Regions from separate parts of the Homo sapiens genome. Here region 1 is linked to region 2. The links come from fine-mapping of genetic effects on gene expression. A gene starts in region 2. The other region holds a variant in brackets. All regions are shown on one strand. Distances are from middle to middle. Region 1 overlaps KALRN (kalirin RhoGEF kinase). Region 2 holds the start of KALRN (kalirin RhoGEF kinase).

Region 1 (4,386 bases), 570 kb after region 2:
AGTGAGGGGAATGTGTTCAGGGGAGGCCTTGTGGAAAAGTGACACAGGGCTGGGTCTTAAAGGGTCAGGAGGGATATACTCCATCTAAGTTAGGCAAAGAAAATGGCACCAGGAAGGACATAGAGACCTGGATAGGAATGGAATATCCATGGTAACGATGAACAGGTGTGTGACTGTAGCATCCTTAGGTCTTCAGCTTTTGGGAGTCAGCCTATATGTTTCACAAATGACAAAGCTGAGGCTTAGAGAGATTAAATGATTCTCCCAAGAGTACTTAGTTTGTGTGTTCAGTCCTGGTTTCTTCTCACTTACTCTGCTGGCCCCAGTTAATTCCAGTTTTCGTGGTTTTTTTTTTGTTGTTGTTTTGTTTTGTTTTTGTTTTGTCTTTTAATTACTACAGTGGAATCTAGTGCAATTTCACATCATGTGCCTGAAACCATGGGATGGGTTAGCACTTCCAGAAGCAGCCTTTTCTTGTGGGGTATTATTTTTATTTGCATATGTAAACCCTCTGCCGCCAAAGCTCTTAACACAAGCATTGCCTGGCATACACACACAGACTTTTATACCCTAAATAGCAGAGGCCTGGAAATGTTTGTCTACCTTTGCCAGCATCTGACTGTGATTATCTTTAACCACAGTCACACTTGTTTGTCTCCTAAAATAGTATTGACTCTCCGGAGGAGGCTGTTTCTAGTCTTCAAAGCCCTCCCAGATATCTATCTCCTTCTACCTGCCTCCTCCTGGTAGCCTTGGCAGCCTCTAATTGATTCACTTAATTTTCTTGCTCCGTATGGCAACACTCCTGAATCCTTCCTTAAAATTCACAGACCTCTCCTTGTGGATTTTACCTCCCGGAGCCCACCTGTTGATTCAGGCAACTGAAGTGTGGCTCTGCTTGAGATGTTCCTCAGCTATTCTTCCTTCCTGTCCCTGGCTCTCCCTACAGGTCATGCCAATATGCAGGTGTCGACTTCCCCAGAGGATAGTAGCCCAAAGGCCAAGCTGTGTCTGACCTATAGGGAGAGACCCAGTCAATTTTTGAAATGGAGCATCTCTCCCCACAACTCTCCCACGAGCATGGATATTAAAAATGTGTGTCCTTGCTTTGAGGTTCTGTCTCAGAGAAAGTCAATATTCCCATATGCTAGTCTATTGGGTTCCTTTGCCTTAAAGTAAAGGTTGCCTCATTTTGACTTTGAACTTGATGGGGGCAAAAGGGGGAGAATGAAGGTGTTTTTACCTTATAGTATCTAACTATGCCCTCCCACCTCTCTAGAATAATACATTATACCAGGCTAGAAAAACTGCTTCAGATGGAGCCTGGTGATCTTATTTGAGAAGGTCATTCTCAGAGCCATCACTAGGATAAAGAGAGTGAACAACATCAGCTCACACATGTGATTCTGTGTTGCATGCTTTGGACTTGGATTCTATCACCGAGAGATCCCTTCTCTGAAACAGTTGGGGTGAAACATGGGTGGTAGACCCAAAACCCCCACAAAGTAAGAACTCTGAACAAATAGATGGTCAGGACTGCTTTCACGTTTTTTTTTTTTAAATTTATTATTATACTTTAAGTTTTAGGGTACATGTGCACATTGTGCAGGTTAGTTACATATGTATACATGTGCCATGCTGATGCGCGCACCCACTAACTCGTCATCTAGCATTAGGTATATCTCCCAATGCTTTCATGTTTTTTAAGCTTTCTCTATGCCTTGGATAGTGTATTCTCCAGAGTGAGGATGTGGAAGTTATGCATCGAGCCTGAAAAGAGCCACTCTTGGTGCTGCTGTTGGACTATATTGCTCTTCCCAAACCACAAAGGTTGTTTCTTTATAACCTTGTGATCATAGAATTGAAAGTTAAGGTGCTTAATGGTGGAAAATAGTTTGGGAAACGAAGGTTGGAGATGAGCTCATGAAAGCCCTATAAATATTTTTATGATCCTTAAAATAAATTATTCCACTAAGGGGAATAATAGTGATTACTATGTAATTTCCATTCTATTGGGTTAGAATTTTTCAGAGTTTTTCCTGATTCAAAATTTGAACTAGATGTTTTTTAATTTCGTTTAAAATTTTTAATTATTAACTAATTATTTTAGAGACAGGGTCTCACTCTGTCACCCAGACTGGAATGCAGTGGTACGATCATAGCTCACTGCAGCCTCAAACTACTGCACTCAAGCGATCCTCTTGTCTCAGCCTCCTGAGTAGGTGGGACCACAAGGATGTGCCATCATGCCTGGCTAATTAAAAAAAAAAAAAAATTAGGCCGGGTGCAGTAGCTCATGCTTGTAATTCCAGCACTTTGGGAGGCCAAGGTGTGC[A/G]GATTGCCTAAGCCAGGGGTTCCAAACCAGCCTGAGCAACATGGCAAAACCTCATCTCTACAAAAAATATATATATACAAAAATTAGCCAGGCATGCTGGTGTGCACCTATAGTCCCAGCTACTCAGGAGGCTGAGGTGGGAAGATCACTTGAGCCCAGGAGGCGAAAGTTGAAGTGAGCTGAGATCACGCTATTGCACTGCACAGGGTCTCACTCTGTTGCCCAGGCTGGTCTTGAACTCCTGGCCTCAAGGGATCCTCCTGCCTCGGCCTCCCAAAGTTCTGAGATTACAGGCATGAGCCAGCACATCTGGCCTAAATTCCTTTCTGTGTGTGGTTATAGAGATAATAGGTGCATTGGCTGGATGCAGTGGCTCATGCCTGTAATCCCAGCACTTTGGGAGGCTAAGAGGCAGGTGGATCACTTGAGGTCAGGAGTTCAAGACCAGCCTGGCCAACATGGTGAAACCCCATCTCTACTAAAAGTACAAAAATTAGCCAGGCATGGTGGCACATGTCTGTAATCCCAGGTACTTGGGAGGCTGAGGCAGGAGAATTGCTTGAACCCAGCAGGCGGAGGTTGCAGTGAGCTGAGATCACGCTATTGCACTCCAGCCTGGGCGAAGAAATGGGACTCCATCTAAAAAAAAAAAAAAAAGAGAGAGAGAGAATAGGTGCATTAAGATAGTTTCATCCCACTGTGGTCCTGTATCCAAATGGGGCCCAAAACTGTGTAAGAATATAGACTTTGAAGCTCCATAGACCTGCCTTGGATATTGGTTCTGTCCCCCTGATTATAGAGCTTTAGTACTGTAGGGGTTTTGGTGTCATATATCTAATAAATATGCATGTACACCCAGGTTTTTAAGCTGCTGTGCTTCACCCATGGCAGTGTGATTCGTCAAAATAAACAAGAACGGAGTAGCACTTGGATCTGCCTCCATCACCACCCCTTCCATTACACGAGTGAAATCCCCTCTATCCCAACACACACATCAAAATGTAATGCTTGCCGCAGCTTTTTGCATCTCTTCCAAGAGGGAGGCTTGATTGGAAAACCTACTTCTGATTAACCACCAACTTCACCCTCCTTTATCATTTCAGTCCACTGCTGACTTTCTCTGATTTATCCCCATCATGAATAGCTTAAAGACTTGACTTAACATAGTCATGCATCTGTTCAGCAAATTTTATTGAACTTAAGCATACTGAAACTTAAGCTCACAGTTTCAGAAAACACAGAGAGAAATAAAATCACATTGATTGGAGTTTGTGTACAAGAGGAATTATACTTCGGGGCAATTATATTGTTCTCATTTGGGGCATTCCTTTGGCCTTGCATGATACTTAGACTGGAGTGTCTCCTCTCTTAGATGGGAGTCCTCATTGGTGACCCAAAGGACCTTGGAAACTGCCCAAGAGCTAGAGCCCAAAATCTCACATGTCTGACAAGCTCAGTGCTGGCATAGCTTGCAGCATTCACTTAGCTATGAAAACGCCCAGGCCATGTGATGTGTGGCAAGGCTTCTTCTTAATCCTTTCTTATAGTCCTGTCTCCTTAAAAATACCATAAATTTGATTTATAAAATATGAGAACCATAAAAGACAAATATAAAGCAGAGGTTCTTTGAAGTTTCTACTTTAAAATGTTTTTCTTAACGTTAAAGTCAGGTAAATTATATCCACAGATCTCATTATACATAAAAATAAATTTCAGAAGGATTTCAGGCAAATGTAAAGACACTATAAAGGAAGTTAAAACAAATGATGGACTAGGAGAAAATGCGTGTAACCTGCCTAATAGATAAAAGATTAAGACCCAGAATGTATGAAGAGTTCTTATAAATTAAGAAAAAAGCTAATTAACCCAATATTTTAAAAAAGGGCAAAAGCGATGAAGATGTAAGACTTTTTAAAAGGCAATAAACTTTTCAAAAGATAACATCTAGTAATCAAAAATTCAAATAAAAACGATAAGATTATGTTTCACCCTTCAGATTGGCAAAATTATAGGTAAGGCCAAATAGATATTCATCCACTCATGGGAACATA
Region 2 (4,386 bases):
TATGTACCTCTTTGCATGATTTTAATCCTTTTAAATTTATTGAGATTTGTTTTATGGCTTAGTGTATGGTTTATCTTGACAAATGCTACCTGTGCATTTGAAAAAATGTGTATCTGCTGTTATGGAGTGGAATATTCTATAAATGTCAGTTAGGTTAGGTTGGTTGATAACATTGTTCAAGTCTTCCATATCTTTACTGATGATCTGTCTCCTTATTCTATTAATTACTGCATTTTACAGATATTAAATTATCTGACTATAATTATAAATTTTTATATTTCTCCTTGCAATCCTATCAGTTTTGCTTCATGTACTTTGAAGCTATCTTATTAGGTGCAAACACTCTTAGGATTGTTACGTCTGCTTGATGAATTGAAATGTTCCTCTTTATCCCTGGTAATATTCTTTGCTTTGAAGTCTTCTTTGATATTAATATAGCCATGAACACTTAACATTTTAATAGAAGTTGCCAAATTTCCTCTCAAAAAAAGTTTGTGTCATTACATAAGGTGTTCCCCCTTTCTTGTCTATATCTTGAGATTTTGATATGACCCTTCCTCTAAACATGTAATGTTTCTTCTGAATTGTGATGAGCTAATGCCTTGCCAGGCCACTGGTTCTTTAGCTGCACAATGGTGGCAATTAATTAATAGCAGCTCTGCCATCACATATGTGTGTGCGGGGGTAGGGGAGCAGACCAGGGGTTAGGCAAAGGATTAAGGGGAAGGAAGATTTTGAAAAGACAAATGAGAAGTATTTTCATTGTCAGAAAAGGCATAGGCAAAGGGGCATCTTAAGCCAGTTCAAGATACTAGGGCCAGATGAATTAGATCTCAGGGCAGTGAACTTGTGATGTCAGAGTCACTACAGAGGTCTGATAGATGTACTCAAGGTTGGAGACAGGTCTGATAGGTGTATCCAAGGTTGGAAACAGGTACTTTTTTTTAATGGGTGAAAAAAAATTAGACTGTTTGTGTCAGTGAAGAACGTGATGCGTACAGGGAGCCAGAAAGTGTTCACTAAAAACTAATTTAATTCATTTTATTTGCTACAAGTTTACACAGTTGGTGGATCTGCATAGGCCCCAGTTGCCTTGGCCCCCAGAGAGAGGTGGAACCAAACAGGTTACTAGAGACAAACAGATCCAGGAGATTCTGTCTGATGGGTTGCAGTCATTAACTTCAGACCAGTACCTGGTTTTCCTATTAGGCGTGTTTTAACACATTAGGTCAGGCCACCACTTCTCCATCTGTCTGGATGAGGCAACAGCGAACAGCGCTCAGCAGACCTTATTAAGTACTCAGGTCTTAAAGACCCTCTGTTTGGTGGGCTCTGTAGTCACTAGAACCATAAACACACTACTGGCTAATTATTGTTTAATTATTGCTTAAAAACTGATGGGCACAATACAATCACCGCATTAATTACCCCATACAGCATCTGTTTTCTTTTTTGCAGCCATCCCCATTCCTCCCCAGCCCCTCTCCCCACTTTAATTGAAATTCAGCTTGCTGTAACACCTCCTTCCTCCTGGCCAACTGGATCTCTCCATTCACATGAGGGAGAACAAAACCGAGAAGGCCCCAGGGATTAGAGAGTTTTGACAGCTGTCCAAGAGGAGCGCGGAGATACGGGCCAAGTACGGAGGCAGGACAGAGACAAACGAGGGACAAGAGAGTGACGGAGGGAGGGAGAGATAGGCAGGGAGACATCACAGGAGCATTAAACTGGACAAAGAGTCACAGAGACAGGCGGAGATGTTTAAAGGGGCGCTGAAAAGGGGAAAAGGACGAGAAAAGATAAAAAGGAGAGAAACTGTGGCGAGCTGGTGAGGAAAATGTGAGAGGCTCAGGAGGGCAGGGAGACAGAAGAGAGCTCGTCAGGAAGGAGGGGAAGAAAGGCCGGCCTCTAGGGACAGGTCAGTCCAGCTTGGAGACCGATCTGAAGATCCAGAGAAGGCGGGCGGGCAGCCTGGTGGTCCCCTCACACACCTGGGAGTGGAGTGGACGGAGGAGGTGGCCGCGGGGCCGGGAGGAGCACCGGCGGCGCGAGCGGAGAAGCTGAGCGCGCAGCGCCCGGGCCGCAGAGCCCCCTGGACAAGCCTGGCGTGTGCCCTGCAGCCCCGGGCTCGCCCGGCGGCCCCGCCCCCTCCCTGGCCCGGGCTTTTCCTGCGGAGCTCAGGAAGCCGGCCTAGCACAGCCTCGAACAATAGCTCGGGACTCGGGCTCCGCTCCCCGGGAGGCCGGCGCGGGGCCGCTGGGACTGGGGGCGTAGGCGCCGCCGGGGGCCCGCAGCGAGCCCTCGGCCCCGGCCGGAGCTTCAATTCAGCTCGGCGCTCCCGGGGTCATTGTTGGCCGGGACTGAGGGAGCGGGAGCCGGGGGAGGAGCTGGGGAGGCGGCTGCTGCGGCGGCGGCGGCGGCGGGAGCCAGAGGGGGAGCTAGAGAGCGAGCGAGCGAAGGAGGGAGGTAGCGAGTGAGCGAGTGAGCGAGGGAGGGAGGAGGTAGGGAGACAGGGAGGGTGGGAGGGAGGAGGAAAAATAAAGAGGAGAGAGCGGAGCAGGGCTGAACAATAGAGACAGGCAGACGGGCGAGCAGGAGAGCCAGCTGCCGCTGCTGGGGGACAGCGGGCGCCCAGGCAGCCCGCACCCCGGCCCCGGGCCCCGGCCCCAGCCAGACAGCAGGCGGCCAGCGCCCTGGGGAAGGGGTACCATGGGGGAGCTGGCGGCAGGCACCCCCAGCCCGCCGCGCGCCTCCGCCTGAGGGAGGCTCAGCGTCCTCTGCCCCAGCCCCGCCGCCCAACGCCCGCCCTCGAAGCTCCGCGGCCGCCAGCTCTGCGGCCGCAGCAGCTGCGCCCCGCGCCCTCCGCCCACCGGGCGCCGAGCAGCCCTCGGCCCCAGGCTTCTTCGGCTCCCGGCTGCCCGCGGACGCCCTCCCACAGTCATGAACCCCCCTGAGGGAGCAGCGGAGGAAGGAGGAGCAGCAGACTCGGACGTGGACGCCTTTTTCCGGACAGGTAAGCCGGGCAGGGCGCGGGGGGCCAGGGCTGAAGGCTACTGCCTCGGACGCGGCGTCTCGGACAAGTTTGGGGAAGGAGGGCTGTTGCTGCCGCGTGCGTGTTGGGGGGCAGTGCCCCCTCGGCGTCGGGGCTGGAGTTGCCGAGATTCTGGTTGTTATGGCAGTGCTGGCTGCGTCTGGGGAGGGCGTGGGGGCTGGGAACTCCGCGCCCCTCCGCCTTCACCCCAGTTGCGGGAGTCTGTGTTGGGGAGGTGGGAGGCGGTCCCCTCGGACCGCCTTCTCCCAGAGCGCGGGGATGGGCGGTGTTGGCTCACTTTGCAGCGCGCCGCTCCGGCTACCGGCGTCCCGGCCCCTCCCTTGGCTCCCCCTCCCCTGTGCCTGTCAGCGGGGCTCCCGGCGGCCGCCCTGGGTCGGCACCCCTCCTCGCCGTCGGGGGCCCGGGGCCCTGATGTGCACAGAGGGGCGGCGGGGACCCGGAGCCGCGCCGGCTGCAGACTGACAGGAGTGGGGCGGAAGACATCGGTCTCGCCTGGTGCGTGTGGGGAGCTGGTCCCTCTGACTTGAGAGGCAGACCCAGCTGGGAGGGCGGTGGGCGCCTCGGACCTCCCCCTTGTCCTCCTCTTCAGTTCTGGGAACGGAGGAGCTATTCATAAGAATTACTCATTCCTGGAAGTGTGAGTTAGCGTCCCTCTCATACACACCCACTAAGTCTCTGCTTGCTGTGAGGTGTAGAGCCCTGAGATGTCTTTCTAGCTCTTTGCGCCCCTGCCATCGTCCAAGTCCCGGGTCCATTGCTCCTCCTGCTCCCTGGCTACACAGTCCCTCCCTAGAACCGGCACTGACCACCCTTATCTTCCACCACCTGTGGCCCTGTTTCTCTGATGGCCAGGGATTCCCCGTCTCCCTGTACCTGTGGCTTCCACCAGCTTCTGTGTGTAGCTCCCCATCTCCCCACATGTCTGAAACAGTTTTGTCTGGAATCTTTGTCCCAAGGAGTCCAGTAAGTTACCGGGGCCCCATGCATCTGCTCTCCCTTCTGGAAAGTTGGATTAGAGGACATGAACTGGTGGGGGTCAGGGGTCAGGTTAGCTCTGGAGGGTCTCTGCACATCCATCTGTTTCCTAACCCTGTTACCTTGCCCTGGAGGTCATCTCTAGGGAAGGGGGTGGGGTGCTTTGCGGGGGAGACTTGTGGCTTTGGAAGTCAAGACTTGATTGGCTCATATGTTCATTCTCTAGTTGATGTGCAGAGGAAAAAACTGGAGGACAGGAGCTGGTGCCAGGGTCTGGGGAAATCAGAGGGAGCCCTGTCATTCTATTCTGCTTCCCAGGTCTAAGCCTTCTTTCCTTTTCTTTCTTCCTCCTTCCTTCC

What was found. PIP is the estimated chance that this variant, and not a neighbour inherited with it, causes the effect. A credible set is the group of variants that fine-mapping cannot tell apart.
Region 1: its variant is the best candidate, but not a certain one, in a credible set for the expression of KALRN in nasal epithelium (TOPMed, PIP 0.88).

The regions. Positions count from the first base shown.
Region 1 is chr3:124,602,596-124,606,981 of GRCh38, forward strand. All of the region lies in intron 34 of KALRN (kalirin RhoGEF kinase), which reads left to right. Among named protein-coding and RNA genes, the nearest start is that of UMPS, 130 kb to the right of the region's middle. The variant A/G (reference allele first, on the strand shown) is at 2,336.
Region 2 is chr3:124,030,801-124,035,186 of GRCh38, forward strand. It overlaps KALRN (kalirin RhoGEF kinase), which reads left to right and starts at 2,569. Exons shown (of 60, transcript NM_001388419.1): 1 at 2,569-3,013. The coding sequence starts at 2,941. RefSeq lists a silencer at 2,085-2,544.